Regions from separate parts of the Homo sapiens genome. Here regions 2, 3, 4, 5 and 6 are each reported to be linked to region 1. The links are microRNA targets in miRTarBase. Many come from high-throughput screens and were not tested one by one. Region 1 holds a microRNA gene; each other region holds the end of a gene's coding sequence.
The links. The annotated mature microRNA hsa-miR-4265 reads CUGUGGGCUCAGCUCUGGG and lies in region 1 at 2,057-2,075, opposite strand. An mRNA with a match to its seed (bases 2 to 7 or 8) in the 3' UTR can be bound and repressed. Matches are read on the target gene's strand: a 7mer-m8 pairs with bases 2 to 8, a 7mer-A1 pairs with bases 2 to 7 and ends in A, and an 8mer does both.

Region 1 (4,104 bases):
AGGAAGACAACTCTCTTGTATCCTGAGCGGCATCCCCCTTGTGCCTTCTGTGGCTGAATTTGTGTTGTGGACTATAGCAGAGGGAAAACTTCCAATGCTAGAAATCTGAGTTTTAAAAATTAATTTAAAAATGTGTTCCTTATGGAATTGGGAGTGTATCTGCTGTCTCGGTTTGACAAACTAAGCTTTGACTTGTGTACAGTAACAAGAGTTTTCCTGGATTTAAAGTTGTTGTCCCCAGCATATCAAATGAGGTGACGTATATCAGATCCTGTGGTTGAGCCTCACAGTGCAGAAGGGCACCTGCTATGGGTCAGCAGCCCATTGAACAATGGAGTTTAAGACTTGCAGTTTTTGAGCTTTTCAATCACCTCTTTGCCAAAGACCAATGTGTCCATTGCTTGGCAGTTTGACATCTGGAGTCGTGTGGACAGGGGTCTACATCCAAAAGGCAGCGCCACTGGGGCTTAGTTTGTTCAGGTTTGTGTTCCTAGGCAGATGGAGGCTGTTTGTCTCAAATATAGCTGCTTTAAAAAAACAGGAGGGTTTATTGATCAGAGGTAGTGACTCATGACGTTGAAACTGTGCCTACATAACTCACATGACAAGGCTGGGGTGAAGAGGACAGGTCTGCGGAAGGCTTTCCACTTAGTCCTGGGAGGCCCCTTTTCCCTCTGTCCACCGTCCCCTCCTGCACCATCACTGTCACTTCTTTTCTGAAGGCTGCATTGATGCACATGGTTGGTGCATATGGGTCGATTGATGCACGTGGTTGCATGTGGTTGACGCACGTGTTTGGAGTTCTCTCTCTTCCTGAGATCAGCTGCATCCAGCCATGGACCTTCTCTTTTGCCGGTTCTTTGTGAATCATAAATCTACTTATAATGCCTTTACATACTGATGTTCTTTTTCTATTTTTCCCAGACTTCAGAAATTTCTTGCCTTTTTTTTTTTAGAGACGGAGTCTTGCTCTGTCCCCTAGGCTGGAGTGCAGTGGTGCGATCTTGGCTCACTGCAGGCTCTGCCTCCCAGGTTCACACCATTCTCCTGTCTCAGCCTCCCGAGTAGCTGGGACTACAGGCGCCCACCACCATGCCTGGCTAATTTTTTTGTATTTTTAGTAGAGACGGGGTTTCACCATGTTAACCAGGATGGTCTTGATCTCCTGACCTCATGATCCACCTGCCTCAGCCTCCCAAAGTGCTGGGATTACAGGCGTGAGCCACCATGCCCGGCCAATTTCATGCTTTTTAGATTTATGGGAAATAGAATTTTTTCCCTTCTGCAAAAGGCCTATGTGCTCTACACGTGGTTAATAGCCAGTCTATGCAATATGATTGATGTTAAAGGTAACATCTCCTCTGTGTCCCCAAACTAATCAGTGCCCCATCTTAGACTATCAACACCTACACAGTCTGGCCCCAGGGGTATCAGTTTTCCACTTGGTACTATCACTGCTGTAAACAACTTCATGGGCTGAGAAGCCCTTACTTTCATAACCCCCACCTTCCATCCGGGGCTGCTGTGAACTGGACAACCCTAAAGCATCCTGACAACCAGACTCCTGTTGGGCAGGCGGTATCTGGCTGGTGTGAGCCATTTACATCAGTTGTATTGAAGGGATCAATGCTATGCTGGGACCCATCCTTGGTGCTCATTTTAGTCGACTTCATCCAGGTGGAAAGATGCAACCACACCCCCCGGAGCCCAGGTTTCTGCGGATTCCTCTCTTTTGTCTCCCTTCTGTGCAGTTTCTGGCTCCATTTTTATTTGTTCAGGCTGTTTCAGTGACCCTTCCTCACTCTTCCCCTCTGTGGGCCGTGCGCATTCCTGGCAACCAGTGCTCTGTCGGCTTTTGCAGTTGCCACTGGCTGGCTTTCTGGAGGCAGCCTCTCGTCTCTGCCTGGGTCCCTCTTCCTCCAACTTGCTCAGTGATGAGTGGGGCTCAGAGCCTCACTCACAGGCTGCCCTCCGCACCGCGCCAAGCTCATGGGAGGGGCTCGAGACCTCTGCAGCACCTAGGCACATGCCTGCCTTTCCCAGTGACCAGGCCCAGCCCAGAGCTGAGCCCACAGCTGCAGAGATCACCAGTCCCCAGGCTGACCAATTCTTTACAGGTGTAGGCTGAAGCTCCAACCCACTGCACTTTTCTCTATCGTGAAATCGGATGTGAATTTAGGGTGCAGATCCCAGGAAGAGTGATGACGCCTGGGGATAACAGTGTGTCTTGACAGAAGAGTTAGGACCCAAAGCCAGCATCTCCCAGGAGAAAGCAAAATAGTCATTTTCTAGACCCCGGGGAACAAGTCTCCTGACAGTATCAACAGGAGGGGGTACTGGTTGGAGAAGGAGGTCAGGGTGACGGTTGTGTCCAGCTCAGCAAAGCCAGGTCCTCGCCTCCTTTCACCCATGGGACCCCCCAGATGTGCCAGTCTGCTGTCGGCTGCCTGCTTCTCCTACCTCCTGCAAGCTCTGCAGGTGGCAGGGCCCTTTCTACACTCACGGAAGTCTCAAACAAACTTCTGTGACACCTCCTCTGGTGTGTGGCCATCATTTCCAGCCCCCTGCCCAAGTCCTCTTCTGGGGTCCTTGAGTCTCCTGGGGGGGGGGTCTCAGGTATGTGCCTAGAACTTCTGCTGCAGCCCCTGGCCTGTCCCCTGGGCCCCACCCTGAGTCACCTACCGGGTGGGGTCCCTGAGCTCCTGGAGAGCAGCAAGGGAATGCTTCCCATGGTCCAGCCCCCTGGGCGGACTCTTGCGCCTTTGTGACTGGGTGAGCTGTGCATTTCCAGTTCTTTGCCAGCTGCCCCACCTCCCCACCCACATCCCTTCCATTGGTGTTCTCAGGAATAGGTGTTTACAGTCTTATTTTTTCTTAAAAATTCCCATGCATGTTATATTCTACTCTAAAATGTGCCTCCTCTGATTTTAATAGGACCCCAAAGCACCCTGTGGGGTTAGCTCCACAAACTTGGAATCAAATATGTGTCCCGTGACTTCTTCCCATTCCCTGGCCCCCAGCACCCACACAGGCACCCAGCTTGCAGGCACAGCGGCCGAGAGTGAGGGAGGGGCTGCCTCCTGGGCTCCCCAGGGACAACGGGGCACTCTGCTCTCCCCAGTGGCTGAGGGAGGAGGATTCTAGTCCTGTCACCAGAAGCCTCTCTGGGTTCTCTGGGGGCAGAACGCCTCTGCTTGGCTGCATCTTGGAGCCCTCCATCCTGGAGTCACCTGTGAGGTCAACTGAGCGGAGCATGGGCTGTCGGGCCTGGGTTTATTTTCTGATCGTTGGTGTCCTCTGGCTTCACCTGCCAAAGCATCGAGGATTGTTGTTGACTGATGGAAGTGCTATAGGCTTGTCGGTAAATGTGGGGAAAGGTGGCTGTCATTGTGGGACGTTTTCACTCTCTAAACTTAAGTGGGAAATTTCTGTCAGGTTGAGGAATTGTCAAGGATGTCGGCTTTCAAGGTGACAATTGTCGTGCTGACAGATACAGCACATGGGTGGTAGTGGAGTGCCGGGGGCTTGGGGCTGGTGTCCTGGCTGCTGGAGTGTGATTTGGCACTAGAGATGAGGAAAGGGAAAGTGCCACTGGGATGCTGGTATTCCTGGTGGTGTCCCTGAGCCCGGGAACCCAGTGTGGGGGGCCTGCCATGATGGCCACAAGGTAACCTCAGGAGGAACCTGGGAAACGTTTTATATTAAAGTTTTCATTTAATGGTCCATTCTGTTTGTCAAGTGGTGCATATAGAAAAATTGTGGCAGTTGCATGGAATTTCATTTGGAAACAAATTTAAATAAAAAGTGAGTCAATTTAAAGGAACTCATTAAGTAAGTATCGTGAAACTGAGGCTTGGAGGACCATAGTTTGGATAAAAAATGCCTTAAGTTGAAGTGAAATCAGAACCTCAAAGCGAGATGTGCAATCTCATGTTCATTTCAGCATTATTCACAGGGCCAATATCTGAAAGCAACCCAGATGTCCATCACCAGATGAATGATAAAGAAAGTGCAGTGGGCTGGGTGCAGTGGCTCATGCCTGTAATCTCAGAACTTTAGGAGGTCAAGACAGGAAGATCGCTTCAGCCCAGGAGCTTGAGACCA
Region 2 (4,000 bases), not on the chromosome of region 1:
GAAGTAAGGAGAGGCAGCAGCTAACACTGCTTTATGAGCCCTAAGTTCCCGGCCCTGCACCAGGAGGGACACATCACAGAACTTTCCCTCTAGCCTGTGGCGGTTCAGAGATTCCAGCAGAGACGAGCTATGCTGTGGGAACTCGATCTGGATTGTCCGTGGGGCTGGGTTGCAGGTCGGGGAGGCGGGTACAGGCGGCAAAGGTGTTGGGGTTTCCATGGCCTCCTCGAAGGTGACAAGAATTGGGAAGAGGAGAAGGGCTTGGGGGTAGACTCCACGCGGGATGAAGGCTGCAGAGGAAAAAGATGGAGGTCACAGAAGCCCTGGATAAAGGGAGCCACATCTTCTCAAACAACCCCCTCCCCACGAGCAATAACTGGAAACTTTTAAGTCAGTGGCGGTTTCTGCAAATCAGTCCCGCACACCAAGAAAGCAAAAACAAACAACAACAACAACCACCACCACTAAACACCAACAGGGGTTTTAACTTCCAGCCCCTGTGGAAGATAAGAAGGAGGTCCTTCAGCCACCAGCCTGCCTTCACCTGCCCAGAACAGCTCCTGCCCCGCCGCTCCGTTCCGCCTCACAGTGCCCACAGAGGTCTGCTCCCGGGAAGCCGCGGTCACCCGGACACCGCGAGTCCCGGCCCGATTGTCCTTCCCGCCGACACGCCCCCGCCGTTACACACGCGGCGCTGCCCTCGCAGTTACAGTGCCGCTACAGCTCCGTCCCAGACCGGAAGCCGCCGCCTCCCCGCCGGACACCGTCGCCAAGTGCGGCGGGCGGAGCTAGAGCCGTAGCCAATCGAGGAACGGCAGCCTACAAGCCTCGTGTTGATTGGCTACTGCAGACGAGGAGGGCGGTGCTAGTAGGAGGGCACAGGCCCAGGGTGTCCTCGCAACGGGCGTCCCGGGGAGCTGCTGAAGTCCTCCCCGCTGCAGAGGACCGAGAGGCAGGGCCCGGGAGAGAACAGCCCGGTCGGAGGGGGTGGGCCGTCAGCCGCCCCGGAAAGCTGCGTTTCCCGGTGATTAAGTGTAGCACCCGCCCCCGGTAGGTCCTGAGAGGGGCGAGATTAGTTGGGTACTTACCATGTGGGCCTGGCACTTGCCCACATCACTTTGTGTCTTCCCACCGGCCCTGCGAGGGTGGGGGTTGCCGTCCTCAGTTTCCAGGCGGGGGAAACGGGCTGGAAGCGTCACTCAGCTAATAGTAGTGGACCTGGGACTGGAACTCAGATTTGCTAAGGAACCAGGCAGGTTCTTTCCTGTTTTCTGCACGGGAGCATTTTAACCAGCAATTAAAGAAACCTTATTTCTAGGTAATTTTTAAAAGAGATAAATGTGGATATATACATGAACTCTTTTATCAGATAACGCCGCTGTTCCTGGCCTCGGACTAAGTGACACAGTGGTGAGGGGAGAGTTAGATTGGAGAAGTTTGGCCGGTGCAAAACTCCTGCTCTAAAATATAAAAAATCTCATTGGGAGGGGAGAGTGACATTCTATGAGGAGAGTGTGGCATCAGGTGGGGATATACGGTTTTCCTCTCAGGCTGTCAGCTTCCTTTCAGAAAGCAGATCTTACCACCGTACAGGTCTGGAGAGCCCTGCCTAAGAAAGTCGGCACAGCGATAAAAGAACAATCTCCGTTTATTAAACATGTTTTTTTCTGTTTCACCACACACTCCAGAAAAAAAGGAAATGGGGCTGGGAGTGGAGAAAAGGGGACAGTGAGGGGGGATAGATAAGGCTGGGAGTGGGGTGGGGAGGGAGAACGAGAAAACAAAATAAAACAGGTAGGAAGAGCAACTCCCTACCCTTGAGGTGGTGGGTGGGGAGGGAAGCAGAGGGGCGGGGGGGGAGGGGGCCAGGAAGCTCTGTACAGAAGGGTTGCCCCCAGCCCACACACACACACCCCGGATATGTACAGTACAAACCCCAGATAATTACAACAGCCAAAGAAGAGAGAAGGAAGGTTGGGGAGGGTCCAGGGGTAGGGCCTGAGGTGGGGAAAGGGCACAGGGATAAAATTTCACATATTTACAACTTTTATATAAGTATAAATTTGGCCCCGGCTGGGTGTATGTGTAGGGGGATGGGACTGAAGGGGAACTGTCCATACAAAAGAAAGAGGAGTAGAGTCTAGGAGAGTCTCAATACCAAACGCAAAAGGATGAAGGGGGCAAGGCTGGGTAGGGGACAGCAGTCAGGGAAGAGGGGGTGCCAAGGAGGGGCTTCTCCCCTCCCATGGCCTACCCACCCCAAACCCCATCCATCCTACCTCCCCTATCCCGCCAGAAAACTATGTACAGAGAAACACCGAAAAATCGTGGAGCTGGCGGGAGGGAGGGAGGTGGAAGGAGATTGGGAGGGGGAGGATGAGAGGGAAGCCCAGCCCTGTCCTACCTCCCCCAGGGGACAGAGTCATGGAAGGGGGCCCCCCAACACCCCTCCTCCAACACAGGTCCCCCCACCCTGGGGGAGAGAGACATGGCTTTTCCTAGAGTAAGTTCCCCCCTCCCCCTGGGAGTAGAGACCAAGAAGAGAGAAGGAAGGGGCAGAGGGGACTGTGTGTCAGAGTAGGACAGATCAACTAGCCTGTCCTCCCAACATACACACCCTCCTAAACCCTGACCCCTCACCCTAACCTCAATTCCACCCCACCCAACACACTGGGGGAGGGGGGGGCATAAGCCCCCTCACCCCGCTCTGGGACCAGCCGAGAGCAGATCAGGTGTGGGGAGAAGGGGAGACAACTCCCATTCCCCCCTTGCCGCCCCCTCCCTGCCCCGGTGGCCCCCTCCACCCCATCTGGGTTCTGGGTGGGGAGGGAGTAAATTTAAGAGTGGTAGAAGGAGAAGGAGTTTGTGCGTGCTGAGCCCCCCCAGACGCTCCTGAGAAATCAAGGGGTAATAGGGCCCCCTCACCCGGGGTCCCCTCCCCATAACAAGGGGGGCAGGGGAGGCCAAAATGGGGCGGTGGAGGGGAGTTAGATTGTCAGCTCTGGTTACTGCTAAAAAAATCACCCTGAAGTTGAAAGTTTGGAGGTGCCACACCCCCAGGGTGGGGGTGAGGGTCTGTCCCCCAGTGCTCAGGGGAACGATGAGGCAGAGGATGGGGATAGCACCCCGGAGTGAAGGGGTCTGTACGGGGTAGGCGGTGTCCTGGGGCAAGGGTCCCTGGGGGTCAAAGAGAGGGCAGCACCCCAATGGGAAGGAAAAGGGGGCGGCTGAGGGTCCCCACTCTCCCTCCTGGAAATGGTGCAGTGGTGGGGGTGGGCAATCAGTGTGCCTCCCAGGGAGGCATTCGGGGAGGCAATCCCGCTGTTCCTCGGTGATGTCCAATCCTGGTGGTTGGTGCTGTTACAGGGTGGGGTGCACAGGAAAGGAAGAGAAGGTCTCTGATGCTGGGTGGGCTAGTGGTCTGCGGTGTTTCGGAACTCGCCGTTCTCCGTAATCTGCAGCCGGGGTGGGGGTGGTGGGGCTGGGGGGGCCAGGCCATTCCACGGTGGGGCCAGCGTCACACGCGGGTTTGTTGGACCCAAGGGGGGAAGCTGCCTCTCCTGCAAGACACCAAAAAGGAGAGCGCGGACTTATTGAGACGCTTCAAGGGGGCCTGGATGCCAGTCCCCTAGCAGTGGCCTCCCCTATAGCCAGCCCACACCACAAGCCATGGACCACCCCCTCCTCCCAGGACAGTCCCCACCATCCTCCTATTTTGTTTCTCACCTGCAGTAGAAGTTAACGTCCTCTGGGATCAGAGAGAAGAGAATCTCACCCCTAGACTCCTAACAGGGGCCTTCAAGCCTTTAACCCAGAGTGTCACACCAGGAAACCAGATCAAAACAGCAAGTTCCCACCGCACCCCCAACCTAACCCTTCTCTGGCTTCACCTGTGTATATTCCTTGCCCATCCCACCCTCCTCCTCTTGAAACCCCCTCCCACCCATCCCCAATCCGAGGTGGGAACTTCATGTTGAGGAATAAGGGGAGGCAGTACAGC
Region 3 (4,104 bases), not on the chromosome of region 1:
AAGCACACCTGTCTGGGGCAAGGGAGAAGATAAGAAGGACAGGAAGGAAGTAGATGTATTTTTAAGGAAATCATTGACTTCTGATAGGGTGTTTTGCAGATTTTTTATAGCTTTTGTTTTTGTTTTTTTTTAGAAAGTTTCTCTGTCATCAGGCAAAGACCAGGGTGGGAACAGGAAAACTAGAAAACTGGTCAAGGGAGAACAAGTCCCTTTTCCTCTCACCAGTGAACAGCAGGTGAGGAAACAGACTCTGGGAGGAACGCTGTTCAGGATGGCTTGCTGCCTGCATGGCATGAGGCTGCTGTCTTGTGGGTGCTGGCAGCCACAATCTCCATTTTTCTGAAGACCACCATTTATGGCTAGATCCAGTAGAGGTCCAGAACTTTCCCAACACTGCTGGAGAGGAAGTGTTTCACAGTCAGAGGAGAGAGCCATGGGGAATGGAAGCAGGGGAAGAAGGGGTGGGGAGGGGAGGAGAGATGAGTGGCTCTATGCTAATCTTAGGGTTCCTTCTCTGCCCTTTTGGGTACCAGAGACAGACCCTAGGAAAGGAATTCTGCAGACAGTCTTGGAAGCACCTTCTCTGGCACTTAAGGCTTTTTCCCGAATTTCAGAGACAGAAACATACCCATCCTTGAGCAACTGCAGTGAGGCAGTGTGGAATTCTAGGGTGTTGATAGCTGTGAGCTACCAGGCCTGTTGGACATTTGCATTCTGGCATTTTAATTCCTTGTCCTAAGATTTTGACTCTTTGCCATGTTCTTGGAACTCCTGGATCTTTCTGGAGTCTGATAGCGGATCAAAATCTCAGCTCCATTCAGCAAACACAGACGCTTCTGGGGGAGAGCTAATGGTCATTTTTTCATCATGGATCAATTGTTCAAGATCAAGCACCTTTCTGATCACTCTTGTCCACAGAGAAAAAAACACATTACTCCACAGTTGGCTTCTCAGATTTGATGTCTAGTTGTCAACCTGAGACCTTCCTTGGAAGCATGGCTTCTGCACAAGTGGGTTACATTGACTGTACCACAGTGGCTCTTAAAACAAGGTTTTTGACCTAAGGAGCCTGTTCTCCAGGCTGACCTGAACCCCTCAAAGACATGGCAAGCAGGTGACATTTCTGCCCAGGGGATTTGCTGAGAGATCTGGAAGGTACAAAGCCACCTTAGGCTTCAATGGGTGAGTGAATTTTTACCACAAACCCCAAAGGGCTGATTTGACTTTCTCTATTATGTATATCCAACAGAGAGAGCAGGCTTGGGGAAATTTTGTCTGGACTCAGAAAATTCATCAGTTTCTTGGGAATCATCAGCTACTACACTTGAAAGACCAGAGTATGGTTATTCCCCAACACCAAGTTGGGCCTTAATTTTCCCATCTGACCTGTCTCTAACATGTGAATCAGTCCCACCTTCCCTGACCACATGAGTGAAGTGTTTCTGTGATGCTTGGCTGTAGATGCAGTGTGACAACTGCCTGAAGCACATGATCTCAGGCACCAGATGGCACTGCTGCTCAGTAGAGCCATATGCTAACAGCCTTCCTAGAGGACACTGGTAACAGCATTCTCCCCAACTATTAAGCTTTATTGTTTTGTTTAAGCAAAGACCAAAGAAGCAACGAAGATACAAGAATTAAAACAGCAATCCTTGCTGGGCACGGGGGCTCACGCCTGTAATCCCAGCACTTTGGGAGGCCAATGTGGGCGGGTCACTTGAGGCCAGGAGTTCAAGAACAGCCTGGCCAACATGGTGAAACACCGTCTCCACTAAAAATACAAAAATTAGCCCAGCATGGTGGCACATGCCTGTAATTCCGGCTACTTGGGAGGCTGAGGCAGGAGAATTGCTTGAACCTGGGAGGCAGAGGTTGCAGTGAGCCAAGATCGCACCACTGCACTCCAGCCTGGGAGACAGAGCAAGGCTCTGTGTTAAAAAAAAAAAAAAAAAAAAAAAAAAAAGGCAATCCTCAACATGGTGAGATGCAGCCACACCCAAAGAACCCCAAAAGGGGCCTTATGGTAGCAGGAGGATCCTAAATGTGGACCCTCACAAAGGGAATGCAGCCCAAGTTAAAAGTGCTTCTTCCTTTGTTAAGGAAGTGATTATGTGAATAACCTCAGTATTCTCAGTGGGAAAATATCTGGCAATAAATTTGTAGCCACAACTTGGAAGTTTCTGGAAGAAATCAACCTCCCACAGCCACCTTTGGCTGACTGCTTATGTTAGGTCTGTAGACTTCCTTTCAATCAGCCGGCAAAAGCCCCATCTGGCCACTTGGTCACAGTTTTACTGCTTCTTCACCTTTTGTTCCTATTCACCTACACATCACTTCCTGGAAGTGGACCAGCTTTATAACCAACCTAGAAAGATCAGGTTGAATTTGGCTTTAGAGATCTGAAGCTCCTCAATTTTCTTCCCTCTGTGGAAGTTTTATTAGAATAATCTCTTCCCTTTGTTGTCCTCTTCCTAACTAACCTAATCTCAAGGCTCAAAGCTTTAAAGGCAAATCTTAAAATGTGCTGCATCAGAAAGCCAAGGCAGAAAGCCGATCACCTAACAGGCTATTGTAATTTAAGGCTTCAAATAACTGTTAATAGTGTGTATCTTCTGTTTTGCCTAAAAGAAAGAGGCTGAAATGTCAATTATCATTTAGAGTTGTGAGTGAATTGCATTTTTATTTACGTTTAAGAGTCTCTCTCCCTCCTTGTGTTCTAGTCTGTGAATGGCTCACACTTGGACTTAGTGTAGGCTCCTATGGGAGGAGCGGGCGGTAGTGAGAATCTTCATCAAATGGAGTAACATGACCCAAATCTCTAGAGGTTTCATAATTTTGCTCTTGCTTCTAAAAACATAATCATCTCTTATGGGGTGTTATGTGCTTTGTATCCTGAAATTTTCCACTTGCTGCTTCTTGGTGTGAGGCGAGAAATGCCACCACGTGGCACTGCAGGAGGAGACTGGTGGAAGCCACAGGGCTAGGCCTTCACTTCCCAGTGACACTGTTCCCAATTCCCTCCAGGATAAGCTGAGACTCCTCAGGATGTGGTTCTGCAGCAGATGAGGTGCGAACAAAGCCTGCTCTGCCCTGGGCACCCAGGATGGCACTGAGTTCTAAAAGGCAAAGGGTATGTGGTGAGGGGCCAGGCTGAGGCCCTGGTGTGGTACCATCATGGGCAGCAGCACCATTTGAGGCCGGGTAGGAGAGACGTGCAGGGCCTGGCCCCCCAAGAGACCAGCAGACAAACTGAGGCGGCAGAGAGAGAGATTCCAGTGTCACCAGGAAGACTGCAGATCATAACAACAATGGTTGCTGATTTGGCATCAAAGAGGTGGCACTGTCAAAGCCGTAATTGCTGAAAATGGCACCAACATGCTGCAGCTGGAGAGAGTGGGTGACCAACATTTGTTTGAAGAACAGATGATGCTCTTTGAATGGCTCAGCCAACAGCCCAAAGTTTTAAGGGAAGACCTCTCTGCCAGCTTCTCTTGGACAGTGTCTCATGTAAAACCTCCAAGGCACTTACATAGCATATTTTTGTGTCCACTCTCTTGCTAGTCTGTTGTACCTGGAATAAAAAAGCAGAGGAAGTGACACCCTCACTTGAAATGGTCACTTCCCTTCAATGTGCTGCAGAGAACAGGACTGATGTGGGGAATGCTGCTGCTGCTGCTTGTCAAACATCTACGGCTGATGGGTGAGTGGAATAAAGGCTTTCCCTGGAGCAGGAGCACATCAGACATGGCTGTAAACCCCCAGCTGGGTGAACCCCTCATGTGTAAACCCCAAACTGTTGATTCTCCATAACTATCTGCTGTGGAAGATTTAATAATGCAACAGACTTCCTCCCTTTCTTTCTCCTGTCCTACAATATGGATGCAGGGAGGACAGAGAAGAGACACACAAAGGTCAGTTTGTACTAGTTACAGGCCGTCCAGCACACAAACTCCAGAACAAGGGCTTGGGAATCTGCCTACCGGGGTGTGCATCAGTACAGTCCTCAGCAGCTGTTCCGCCCCTCTGTGTCCTGGCTTTTTTGATTGCTTGCCATGGGGAAAGTATCTGCCTTGTGTGCTTGTGGGGAAACTAGAGAAGTCTGTA
Region 4 (4,104 bases), not on the chromosome of region 1:
CACGGTGGCTCACGCTTGTAATCCCAGCATTTTGGGAGGCCAAGGCAGGCGGATCACGAGGTCAGGAGATCAAGACCATCCTGGCTAACACGGTGAAACCCCGTCTCTACTAAAAATACAAAAAATTAGCCTGGCGTGGTGGTGGGCGCCTGTAGTCCCAGCTACTCGGGAGGCTGAGGCAGGAGAATGGCGCGAACCTGAGAGGCGGAGCTTGCAGTGAGTTGAGATTGTGCCACTGCACTCCAGCCTGGGCGACAGGGCGAGACTCCGTCTCAAAAAAAAAAAAAAAAGTTTCGCCTATGGAAAGCGTTTGCCCCAAGGTCAGTGGTAGAACCCCTCTTCCCCTCTTTCCCTGGCTTCAGCTCCGATCGCCTTTCCTGAAACAAATGGTCCTGATTGGTGTCCCCATCTCCCTTCTCAGCAGGTCGAGTCCCGGGCGCTCACCATGTTCCGGGACATTGCCCAGCAACTGCAGGCCACCTGTACCTCCCTGGGGTCCAGCATTCAGGGCCTCCCCACCAATGTGAAGGACCAGGTGCAGCAGGCCCGCCGCCAGGTGGAGGACCTCCAGGCCACGTTTTCCAGCATCCACTCCTTCCAGGACCTGTCCAGCAGCATTCTGGCCCAGAGCCGTGAGCGTGTCGCCAGCGCCCGCGAGGCCCTGGACCACATGGTGGAATATGTGGCCCAGAACACACCTGTCACGTGGCTCGTGGGACCCTTTGCCCCTGGAATCACTGAGAAAGCCCCGGAGGAGAAGAAGTAGGGGGAGAGGAGAGGACTCAGCGGGCCCCGTCTCTATAATGCAGCTGTGCTCTGGAGTCCTCAACCCGGGGCTCATTTCAAACTTATTTTCTAGCCACTCCTCCCAGCTCTTCTGTGCTGTCCACTTGGGAAGCTAAGGCTCTCAAAACGGGCATCACCCAGTTGACCCATCTCTCAGCCTCTCTGAGCTTGGAAGAAGCCTGTTCTGAGCCTCACCCTATCAGTCAGTAGAGAGAGATGTCCAGAAAAAATATCTTTCAGGAAAGTTCTCCCCTGCAGAATTTTTTTTCCTTGTTAAATATCAGGAATATAGGCCGGGTGCGGTGGCTCACACCTGTAATCCCAGCACTTTGGGAGGCTGAGGCGGGCGGAACACCTGAGGTCAGGTGTTCGAGACCAGCCAGGCCAACATGGTGAAACCCCGTCTCTACTAAAAATACAAAAAAAAATGAGCCGGGCATGGTAGCAGGTGTCTGTTATCCCAGTTAGGAGGCTGAGGCAAGAGAATCTCTTGAACCTGAGAGGCGGAGGTTGCAGTGAGCCAAGATCGCGCCATTGCACTCCAGCCTGGGGGACAAGAGTGAGACTTAGTCTCAAAAAAAAAAAAAAAGAAAAAAAAATCAGGGATATAGTTCATATCCCACTTCTTTGTTTACACCGATGTCCCTGAATATCAGCCTGTAGCTAATGGACTTGGGATTTCTGGTCTAAGTGGGCCTCCTGGGGATGGGGTGGTACACTGAGCTTCTGAGCCTCATTGTAGAGTAGAAAGGTACTGGGGCCTGTGTGGTAAGCCTTGTTGAAATGCTCTGGTATTCAGTATTGCCTTAATAAACTTCACCCACAACTGCATACAGGCCATGTGTGTACGTGTGTGTGTCTTCATCTGTCCCTGCTGCTAGAACAGAAATATCTTAGGCAGGGTAATTTATTTATTCATTTATTTATTTTGTAGAGACGGGGTCTTGCTATGTTGCCCAGGCTGATCTTGAACTCCTGAGCTCAAGCGTTCCTCTCACCACGTCCTCCCAAAGTGCCTGGCCAGGCTGGGTAATTTATGAGCAACAGAAATTGATTTCTCACAGTTCCGGAGGCGGGGAAGTCCAAGATCAAGACACTGGCAGGCCTGGCACAGTGGCTCACGCCTGTAATCCCAGCACTTTGGGAGGCCGAGGTGGGAGGATCACTTGAGGCCAGGAGTTTGAGACTGGCCTGGGCAACATAGCAAGACCCCATCTCTACACAAATTTTTTTTTTTTAAGTTAGCCAGGCATGGTAAGGTGGGAGGGTCACTTGAGCCCAGGAGTTTGAGACTGCAGTGAGCCAAGATCGCACTACTGCACTCCAGCCTGGGCAACAGAGCAAGATACCATCTCGGAAAAAAATCCAAGTGACAATCTACAGTGTTTCTCTACGGTAGCTACAGAGAAGGGGAACTTCAGGGACTTCTCCCAGGGACATGGAGAAGATACATTCTCAGTCTTACTAAATACTGCTGGACTGTTGCCCAAATCATTGTCAGTCTTTTCACTCCCACCCTAAGTCCTGAGAGGGTTCATTTCCCCCATCACCAACCACATGTTACTTTCTCTTTGTTAATCCATATTCAAGTTGAATTCATATGCACCCAAGTATATGAATCTTAAAGGGACAGTTCAATGAATGTTACATAGGAATCCACTCCCTATAACCAACAGCCACAGGGATTACTGGTGCGTGCCCCACCATGCCCGGCTAATTTTTGAATTTTACTAGAGACGGGGTTTTGCCATATTGGCCAGGCTGGCTTTGAACTCCTGACCTCAAGTGATCTGCCCGCCTCGGCCTCCCAAAGTGCTGGATTACAGGCGTGAGCCACTATGCCAGCCTTTTTTTTTTTTTTTTTCGCTCTTTTTTGAGACAGAGTTGTACTCTGTTGCCCAGGCTGGGGTGCAGTGGTACTATCTCAGCTCACCGCAACCTCCACCTCCCAGGTTCGAGTGGTTTTCCCGCCTCAGCCTCCCGAGTAGCTGGGATTACAGGCGTGCACCACCACGCCCGGCTAAGGCTGGAGTACAGTGGCACGATCTCGGCTCACCGCAAGCTCCACCTCCTGGGTTCACGCCATTCTCCTGCCTCAGCCTCCCGAGTAGCCGGGACTACAGGTGCCTGCCACTACAACCGGCTAATTTTTTGTATTTTTAGTAGAGACAGGGTTTCACCGTGTTAGCCAGGATGTAATTTTGTATTTTTAGTAGAGATGGGGTTTCACCATGTTAGCCAGGCTGGTCTCAAACTCCTGACCTCAAGTGATCTGCCCACCTCGGCCTCCCAAAGTACTGAGGTTACAGGTGTGAGCCACCACATCTGGCCCCACCTCATCCTCTTGAGTATCTGGGAACTACAGGCGTGCACCACCACACTCAGCTAAATTATACACACACACACACACACACACACACACACACACAGATGTGGGTCTTGCTATGTTGCCTAGGCTGGTCTCAAACTCCTGGGCTCAAGCGACCTCCCACTCAACCTCCCAAAGCACTGGGATTACAGGTGAGAGTCACTGCACCTGGCTCTCACCCGATCTTTTTCCCAATCCCATCAGATAGATGCTATTATCTCCAGGGAAAATGAGGTGTAATCCAGAGAGCCCACCCTCAGCCCCACCTCAGCTACTAATAGCTGAGTAGTAATTTGAACTCAGGCCAGGCATGGTGCCTCACGCCTGTAATCTCAGCACTTTGGGAGGCCAAGGTGGGCAGGTCACTTGAGGTCAGGAGTTCGAGACCAGGCTGGCCAACATGGTGAAATCCCCCTCTCTATTAAAAATACAAAAATTAGCTGGGTGTGGTGGCACACACCTGTAATCCCAGCTACTGGGGAGTCTGAGGCACAAGAATCACTTAGCCCAGGATGCAAAGGTTGCAGTGAACCAAGATCACGCCACTGCACTCCAGCCTGGGCAACAGAGCGAGACTCTGTCTCAAAAAAAAAAAAAAAATTGGACTCAAAGAGTCAAGTTCTCTCCACGGTGCTTATAACCACCACATTTTAAGGTAGCAATGCCTGTTTTGGAATATCATACATGACACATATGTTGACTTGTGAAAGTGTCAAAGATATATTGACAATGGAATACAGTAAATTTTTTTTTTTTTGAGACGGAGTCTCGCTCTGTAGCCCAGGCTGGAGTGCAGTGGCGCGATCTCAGCTCACTGCAAGCCGCACCACCTCACAGGTTCACACCATTCTCCTGCCTCAGCCTCCTGAGTAACTGGGACTTCAGGCACCTGCCACCATGCCCGGCTAATTTTTTGTACTTTTAGTAGAGACGGGGTTTCACCGCTTTAG
Region 5 (4,104 bases), not on the chromosome of region 1:
CACTGGCCTGAGGTTTCTGAGTAAGCTCTGACCCAATCATTGACTATTAAACTTCAGAGGTCCATGGAGACCTCTTAGGAGTCTTTGAAGGAACTTAGCATAGATACCGATAGCTGCTGACTGCAGGGAGATGGGGAGATATGTTTTGTAAACCTGTCCAGGCAACTTTTTTGCCTACGGAAACACACAAAAACGAAAACAAACCAATGAAAAAAACCTCTCAGAACGATACAGAATCCAGAGCCACTACAACACATTTCATGAAGTGGCGTGAGCCTGTAATTCCAGCAGTTTGGGAGGCCGGGGCGAATGGATGACTTGAGGTCAGGAGTTCGAGACCAGCCTGGCCAACATGACAAAATCACCATCTCTACTAAAAATACAAAAATTAGTCATGCATAGTGGCATGCACCTGTAGTCCCAGCTACTCGGGATGCTGAGATGGGAGAATCGTTTGAGCCCGGGAGGTGGAGGTTGCAGTGAGCCGAGATCGCACCATTGCACTCCAGCATGGACAACAGAGCAAGACCCTTTCTTAGAAAAAAGAAAAGTATCCCCGAACATTATCAGAGTCAAGTTAATAAAGGCCAAAGGTAGAGAAAATCTTGAAAGTATCGAGAAAATGACATGTCAATCATAAGGTCAGGTTCTTCAACAGTCATACTGACATTGTGGCTGGAATATTTGTTGTTGTGGGATATATATATATATATATATTTAGAGTGTTGTGGGATATATATATATATTTAGAGACAAGGTCTTGCTCTATCACTAAAGCTGCATTGCAGTGTGTGATCATAGCTCACCATGGGATTCTTGATTTTCAGTGAGTATAAAGTGTAAGACAAAATAAGTCTTAGTTCAGGTATGCTGGATGGGAAGCCAGAGGTCTGCATAGCAGTTACAAAGAAGGCCTTATTATCTGGAAGAAAAGGGACCATAGAATGTCCATTGGTTGGGGAACAACCCAGCTTTAGTTTTTCCAGATTCTCTGCATGTGCAGGTTTATGAGACTGGAGAACTTTGATTTCTTCTTCCTCCTCCTCCTCTCTTTTCTTCTTCCTCTTCCTCCTTTTTCTCCTCCTTTCTTCCTTTATTTTTCTTTCTTCCTTTCCTCCTCTTTCTTCTCCTTTTTCCTCCTCTTTTCTTCCTTTCTTCTCTTTTTCTTCTTCTTTTTTTTTTTTTTTTAAAAGACCGTGTTTCGCTCTGTCACCCAGGCTGGAATGCAGTGGCGTACTGTTTTAGAAAAGTGAAAGAGGGCCGGGCGTGGTGGCTCATGTCTGAAATCCTAGCACTTTGGGAGGCTGAGGCGGGTGGATCACCTGAGGTTGGGAGTTCGAGACCAGCCTGGCCGACATGGCAAAACCCTGTCTCTACTAAAAATACAAAAATTAGCCGGGCATGATGGCAGATGCCTGTAATCTCAGCTCCTCAGTAGGCTAAGGCGGGAGAATCGCTTGAACCCAGAGGCAGAGGCTGCAGTGAGCCAAGATTGCAGCATTGCAGGAAAGAGAGAAAAAGGAGGGAAGGGGAAGGAAAAGGAAAGAAAGAAAAGAGGGGAAGGGAAGGGAGAGATTTAAAAAACAATAGTAAAGAGAGATTTAAAAAACAATAGTAAAGAGAGATTAAAAAAAAAAAGTAAATGGGCCAGGTGCGATGGCTTGTGCCTGTAATCCCAGCAGTTTGAGAGGCTGAAGTGGGAGGATCACTTGAAGCCAGGAGTACCAGACCAGCCTGGGAAACATAGTGAGACCCCGTCTATACTAAAAAATATTTAAATGGGCTGAGCGCGGTGGCTCAGGCCTGTAATCCCAGCACTTTGGGAGGCCGAGGCAGGCGGATTACCTCAGGTCAGGAGTTTGAGACCAGCCTGACCAACATGGCAAAACCCCATCTCTACTAAAAATACCAAAACAAAAACTAGCAGGGCATGGTGGCGCATGCCTGAAATCCCAGCTACTCAGGTGGCTGAGACAGGAGAATCACTTGAACCCAGGAGACGGAGGCTGCAGTGAGCCGAGATTGTGCCACTGCACTCCAGCCTGGGCGAGCAACAGAGTGAGGCTGTCTCTCAAAAAAAAAAAAAAAGGAACGGTAGTGTGCACCTGTGGTCCCAGCTACACAGGAGGCTGAGGCAGGAGCATCACTTGAACCCAGGAGTTCAAGGCTGCAGTGAGCTATGATGGCACCACTGCCCTCCAGACTGAGCCAAAAAGCAGACCCTGACTCTAAAACAAAAGAAAGAACAAATAACAAATGAAAATAAATACCCAAAAACCAGTCAAATGTGAAACTGGTGTCAGGGGTATGTTCTCCATGTTGAGCCCCTTCTGTGGAATATGACAGTGTCTCTATTTCGGGTAAAGGAAAGACCAAAATAACTTTCCAAGATGAAAAGCTAAGAGTGCTGATCTCATCACAGACATAGCCAGCTCTTCAGTTCAGACCACCTGGAAACCCTCCCCATGTCTTTTCAGAACAATGTCCTAAGAACCATAGGGGAAGTGGCCATAAAAACCATCTTTCCTTTGCAGACTGGGGTGGGGACTCTGGCCAATGCCATTCTGTTCTTCCATAATATCTTTCCCATCTTGACTGAGCATCAAATGAGGCCCACACACAAGATTCTCACCCACATGGCCGTGGCAAACTCCTTGGTTCTTCTTTCCACTGGAATCCCCCACACAATGGTGTCTTTTGTCCTATGGAAACCCTTGTCCAGTCTTGAGTGTAAACTCGTGTTTACAGGTCTTAAAGTCCTGACCTGGTGATCCGCCCGCGTGGACCTCCCAAAGTGCTGGAATTACAGGCGTGAGCCACCACTCCTGGCCTATGCCAGCATTCTTTAAAGTTGTGGGAAAAGGCCAAAAGCAAATAGAAAATTGGGCAAAAAAGTTCATAATTGCTTAAACATATGGAAAACCTGGAAGTAAAATTAAGCAAGTAAGTGCGAGCACTCTACATTGAAGATTATAGAAAATTCAGCCTCCCAAATATCCAAAGAATCCAGGAGTGTGCCAAGAGATCCAAGAGTAGGTCCACAATTTCTCATTCTCAGGAGAATCTGAGATTATATTTCAATCTAATGATAACTGATTATATAATCCAATTTCTGCATCATCTTGCTTTTATGTTTTGTAATAAAAATTTTAGACCAGGCCAATAAGGCATCAGCAATTTACCGTAGGGAACTAGGGAATGTTTAATTATGACAATGAAGTGTTTAATATTGTGTTTTGAAATATAAACAGTGTAGATATATTTGAATAATACTGAATTTTTAGAAAAATCTATTGGGGTGTCATATATAAAAGGATAAGTAGAGATTTGGAAATGCTTTTTTATTGGACAAGAAAATTGATCAAATCGAAATCTGGACAAACTAGAAAGTCTGGATGCTAGCAATACAATCTATAGACACATTCTAGCATCACTTCTGTGTCAGAAGTATCCGGATTGTGGTGCCTACAAATGCATGCTCCTACACACCAAGACATCCATTAAGAAAATAAAGCCATGCTTTCCAGAGCGTTTAGCACTTGTTTAACGTACTTGTGCTTCTAAATATCACAAGGCAGGATGGGATTTCTAAAGACAAGGGGATATAGGACCGAGGCAAAGACAATCAGCATGTACACTGAATCACACTCCATAATCATATTGCTAGAACACTTAGGGAGTACCTCTGAAATCACAGCCCTGCTGCCATGATGTGCAATTACAGGATAGAGGTGCCAGGTGAAGGTCCCACTGTGGCCAAGGAAAGCCTTTGTGAGACGACTACTTCAGGGTGTTCCCCATCAGAGGAGCACACCCCTGATCTTGTATTCCTCGTCAATCCAAGGTCCATGTGAAATGGTCAGATGGGGAATTTTTTCTTCCACAGACATCAGGATCTTCTGAGTTTCTTCATCAAAGCCAGATTTGTGCAGCCTGGGAAAATAGAAATAAAGTTTTTTTTTTTGTTTTTCATTTTTACACAGTATTGCCTCTCTACATTCTGATGTCTACCTCTCCTCTCCTCTTTATTCTTTCCTAGAAATCACTGGGAGAATTGTACTGAATTTGAAAAACAAGCATGAATCTTTCCTATAGGATAGGAAG
Region 6 (4,104 bases), not on the chromosome of region 1:
CGTTTTGTAATGTGTATTGATAATTATGGGATATTAAAACTAAATCTGGTTTGGTAGAAATCAGAGGTATGACAGGTATAAATTTGTTTCCAGCAAATTACTCTGAATTAGATTCATTGTCATTTCCTAAAAACAGTTTGAGTGGCTTATTGATGTTTTTTCTTTAAAAACAAAATTTTCTCTTACAGCAATTCTGGGGTCAGAAGCCATGGAGTCAGCATTATCACCAAGGATATTATTGAATACCCAAATAAAACGAACTGATACATATTTCTCCAAAACCTTCACAAGAAGTCGACTGTTTTCTTTAGTAGGCTAACTTTTTAAACATTCCACAAGAGGAAGTGCCTGCGGGTTCCTTTTTTAGAAGCTTTGTGGGTTGATTTTTTTTCTTTTCTTTTTTGTACATTTTTAATTGCAGTTTAAAAGTGAATCGTAAGAGAACCTCAGCATTGTGCACGATAAGAGAATGTGTCAGTATTTCAGGGTTCTACATTTTATCTGTAAAATGTGACTTTTTTTTTTTTTTATCACAACAGAAGTAAAATGTTGCTTTGTACCTGGTGTCTTTTATTAAGAATTTACTCCCCCCATTTCTCACAGAGAATAACAGTCGGGAGTCATTGTCACAATATAATAGAAATGTTAGCAACCAGATTCATGTAAGGACTAAGTGGTCCTCATGAATTGCATTAAGACTCTGTACTGCTCATATTACACTCCATCCTCTCTGTAGTTTGCTGGGTAGTGGAGGGGGTAAGCTAAATCATAGTTTCTGACAATAACTGGGAAGGTTTTTTCTTAAAATAACAATGGAATTGGTATAATTGGGATTGAAAACTAAAACTTGGAACTAAGATAGAGAAGATGGAGTGTATGTAGAAGGGCTGTTAAAAATGTAAAACTTGGTTGCATTATTTGTGGAGGCTCAAACTTGTGAAGGTTAATACCATAATTTTTCCATTTGTTCTGCATTTTGATTCTGAAAAGAAAGCTGGCTTTGCCCATTTCTTATTAAAAAAACTTGTTGTAAATCCAGTTGTCTAATGGGATCTATATGAAGTTAGCCATGTCTGTATGCCCTTCTCCCACAAAATACTGTATAACTAGTGTGCTTGTAGTAGTTAACTCCACCATCTTTGTAAGCTAATGAAATTGTGAGTCACCCATTTATATCTTAATTTTTAATCATGTCAGTTCTTGAATGGGTATCTCCTTAGCCTGCTGATTTCTTTTTCTTTCTAAAGAAAGTGGGTGGAGAAATTAATTTAGACGTTTGTTTGCAATAAAAAGAATTCATTTTACTCTTGTTTTGGGATTCTCGCCATCAAGGTTCAAAATCCCTTTATATAACTCCCAAGAGGAGAAATTTATTAAGTGTGTGCTTTCTGGACAGCTTATTCTTTACTCTGCATAGAACATTTAGGTTTTAAAAACTTAAATGTATACTGACAATTGATACATAATTATGAAGTAAAGTTGAATTCTTCCCTTCCCCTCCCCCCCAGACAACTTTTAACATATTTAATGAGGGGAAAAGGTACTGGCTGGGAGAAGTTAACACTGAGTTTATCATCTTTACAGAATGCTAATGCTGTCCTCAACTGATTATTTTATATACATATATATGATACATGAAACTCTGGGATCAGATGCTTTTAGAAGCCATCATGCAAGCCAGTCATTGATGTCACTGCTACACAACACTGCTAACTTGACTGTAGCTATGTAATAACATTAGATCCCCTAATTGTAATTATATTGGGTTTGCACAGAACACTTTAATCTTCCCCTCACCAATGTGAAGTGAGGAATCAGGAGTCAAACTGTAGAACTAAAATTTGACTTCAGTCTAGCGTTTCCTTGGTGTTTTTAGGTTGCTTTGGTAAGTTTAGGTTTGCTATATTTCTGATTGCTTAGAATTTTGTTTTAGCCCTTTAAAATCAGATCATAAATATGAATTCATACTTCTAAGGAATTTTCTTGCTATAAGCTGGAGTTTAGGTGATGTATAGGTTCAGTTGAGACATTTTTGGAACAGGCAAATCCTTAGTTAACATAAGATATTTAACAGTTGAAGATAGTGTCATGGATTTTTATCTTTTTTAGCAAGTAATGCTAAGAACCACTGGCCTGAGCTACTACTCTTCAGTATACATTATTAGGATTGCATAGACTTACTAGAGGAACAGTTTCAGGTTTTGATGCTAATCAGTGTTGTGTCCTAAAGTTGTCCTTTGTGCCTTTAAAAAGTTTTGGATATATCTTCTAGTTTAAAATTGCTTATTAAGGAATTCATTTTATAATTGCAGTGGGAAAGTAATGGTCAAGTAACACTAGGTAGACTATCATGCCTGTTTAGCCCAGAGAATTTGGGGGGAGAGAGAATAGATAAAAATGGCACCCAGAAAAATGTTAAAATCTTTAGTCAAGACTAGAATTAATACAATTGTCTACACTTGTATGGCAGAAATAACCTTATAAAGTGTTTAAGGAATTCAGAGAAGGGAATGTACCAAATAAGCAACAGGGAGAAAATTAGGTAAGAAGTAAGATACGAACGAGAAACCTGATTTATTGCTCATCCTTCCCTTGCCTCCCTAATGGCAAGCAAAACTCTGAACATCTGAAAAGGATGTAGTTCTGGACAAATCCTGACTACCCAGAGGAAACTCACTGTGAGATTGCTGTTGATTTGAAGGGTGCTTTCACTAAGGTTATATTTTAAAGTAGAATAACACATGCTGAGTGTAAACTGGCTTTGGATTGGTCAGCTGCAGTAGTACAAAAACAGCATAGAATTTGAGAAAACTAAAACTGCTATGAGATAGCTATGAGAAAACTAAAACTGCTATGAGATAGAAATGATGTAAAATTATGTGGAAAGTTTTCCCTCATATACTCACATACAGCCTTTGAAGGGCTCTGGCTCTGACCGGTTGATGGCCTTGAGCGAGATGAAATCATGAAATTGAGTCAAATCAATTTGACATTGAAATGACAAGAGGAAACTCTTAAATACATAAAAACAAGCTCTCATTTGCCTAGGATAGATACTGTCTTAAAAATAAAGACTGAACCTAGATGTTCTGAGCACTAGCAACAAGGTATTTTAACAAGTTTAAAGGAATTCTCTGAAAAAGTTATAAAATTATTCTAGGAAACATAACCATAATAGTGTTTTAAGGGACTTTCACCTGGGGATTTTATATTCATGAACAGAGTGTATTCTGTATTTAAAATGTCTCATTTGTGGGAATTGGATGACATGTTTTTTGATAAATTTATTCACAATATAAATTGACTTTTTATTCTAGGACCATGTGAATAATGGGTTCCATTGCACAAATACAAATATTTTAATAGCTTCTTAGGCAGTGGTGTAGACATCTTGGATATAAATAATTGTAGATCTTGTATATTTGATTTTTAAAAAACTAGAATAAACAGAGAGGCATAAACATATCTTAGAGTCCAAGTGGTAGTGTTTAGCATTGGATATAATAAATGGATGTTTTACAAAGTGTTTCCATAATTCTCTTCCTATACATAAATGTCTTGTTTTCAAAAGTGGATGGAACTTGGCTGGGTGTGGTGGCTCACGCCTGTAATCCTAGCACTTTGGGAGGCCAAGGCGGGAGGATCACTTGAGCTCAGGAGTTTGAGACCATCCTGGGCAACATAGTGAGACCTGGTCTCTTGAAAAAAAAAAAGTGGATGGAACTTGTAGCAGAGAATTTTATCTACTTCTCAACCTGCTTCAGAATACCCATTTGAGATGTTCCCCTGGAAAGATGAACACAATACTGCATCTGAAGCCATTTCTTCCCACCTAACATTCTTAAAATGATTAGAGTCTAAACTTTGTCATTCATTCCTAATTCTGGAGCTCTGAGGTTGAGGTGTTCAGAGTTTGGTGAATAATTGGGTTTAAGTTTTAACATTTTAGTAATAATAAAAGCAAACACATACATGTTAAGGCCTGACAATAGGTTGCAATACCCATGCATTGGGACTCATACCCAGCATAAATGGTGAGGGACTGAACATTAGTGCTTTGAGCAAGAATTGGTTAACTACCTGAGATCTCTAAAACAGTAATTT

Region 2: the mRNA of SYNGAP1 is a reported target of hsa-miR-4265. The part of its 3' UTR that is shown has no 7-base or 8-base seed match.
Region 3: the mRNA of UBE2D4 is a reported target of hsa-miR-4265. Seed matches in the 3' UTR shown: 7mer-m8 at 1,704-1,710 and 7mer-A1 at 307-313.
Region 4: miRTarBase lists PLIN3 as a target of hsa-miR-4265. Seed matches in the 3' UTR shown: 7mer-A1 at 1,606-1,612.
Region 5: miRTarBase lists NLRP9 as a target of hsa-miR-4265. The part of its 3' UTR that is shown has no 7-base or 8-base seed match.
Region 6: the mRNA of HNRNPU is a reported target of hsa-miR-4265. Seed matches in the 3' UTR shown: 7mer-A1 at 1,088-1,094.

The regions. Positions count from the first base shown.
Region 1 is chr2:109,139,444-109,143,547 of GRCh38, forward strand. MIR4265 (microRNA 4265) reads right to left here and starts at 2,145; the gene lies at 2,047-2,145. The region is part of intron 1 of SH3RF3 (SH3 domain containing ring finger 3); the gene reads left to right. It also overlaps a transcript of RANBP2 not described here.
Region 2 is chr6:33,451,320-33,455,319 of GRCh38, reverse strand. SYNGAP1 (synaptic Ras GTPase activating protein 1) reads right to left here. Exons shown (of 19, transcript NM_006772.3): 19 at 1,631-3,560. The coding sequence ends at 3,414. It overlaps ZBTB9 (zinc finger and BTB domain containing 9), which reads right to left and starts at 744. Exons shown (of 2, transcript NM_152735.4): 1 at 545-744; 2 at 1-290. The coding sequence starts at 219. SYNGAP1-AS1 (SYNGAP1 antisense RNA 1) reads left to right here and starts at 915. Exons shown (of 3, transcript NR_174954.1): 1 at 915-1,050.
Region 3 is chr7:43,952,117-43,956,220 of GRCh38, reverse strand. It overlaps UBE2D4 (ubiquitin conjugating enzyme E2 D4), which reads right to left. Exons shown (of 7, transcript NM_015983.4): 7 at 85-3,571. The coding sequence ends at 3,526. It also overlaps the pseudogene POLR2J4. Among named protein-coding and RNA genes, the nearest start is that of UBE2D4, 28 kb to the right of the region's middle. RefSeq lists silencers at 1,423-1,472, 1,513-1,582.
Region 4 is chr19:4,835,854-4,839,957 of GRCh38, reverse strand. It overlaps PLIN3 (perilipin 3), which reads left to right. Exons shown (of 8, transcript NM_005817.5): 8 at 422-1,617. The coding sequence ends at 766. Among named protein-coding and RNA genes, the nearest start is that of TICAM1, 6.2 kb to the right of the region's middle.
Region 5 is chr19:55,705,112-55,709,215 of GRCh38, forward strand. It overlaps NLRP9 (NLR family pyrin domain containing 9), which reads right to left. Exons shown (of 9, transcript NM_176820.4): 9 at 3,327-3,933. The coding sequence ends at 3,801. It overlaps EPN1 (epsin 1), which reads left to right. Exons shown (of 11, transcript NM_001130072.2): 11 at 1-4,104. It also overlaps the pseudogene VN1R106P. Among named protein-coding and RNA genes, the nearest start is that of NLRP9, 31 kb to the right of the region's middle.
Region 6 is chr1:244,850,588-244,854,691 of GRCh38, reverse strand. HNRNPU (heterogeneous nuclear ribonucleoprotein U) reads left to right here. Exons shown (of 14, transcript NM_031844.3): 14 at 189-4,104. The coding sequence ends at 242. It overlaps SNORA100 (small nucleolar RNA, H/ACA box 100), which reads left to right and starts at 475; the gene lies at 475-605.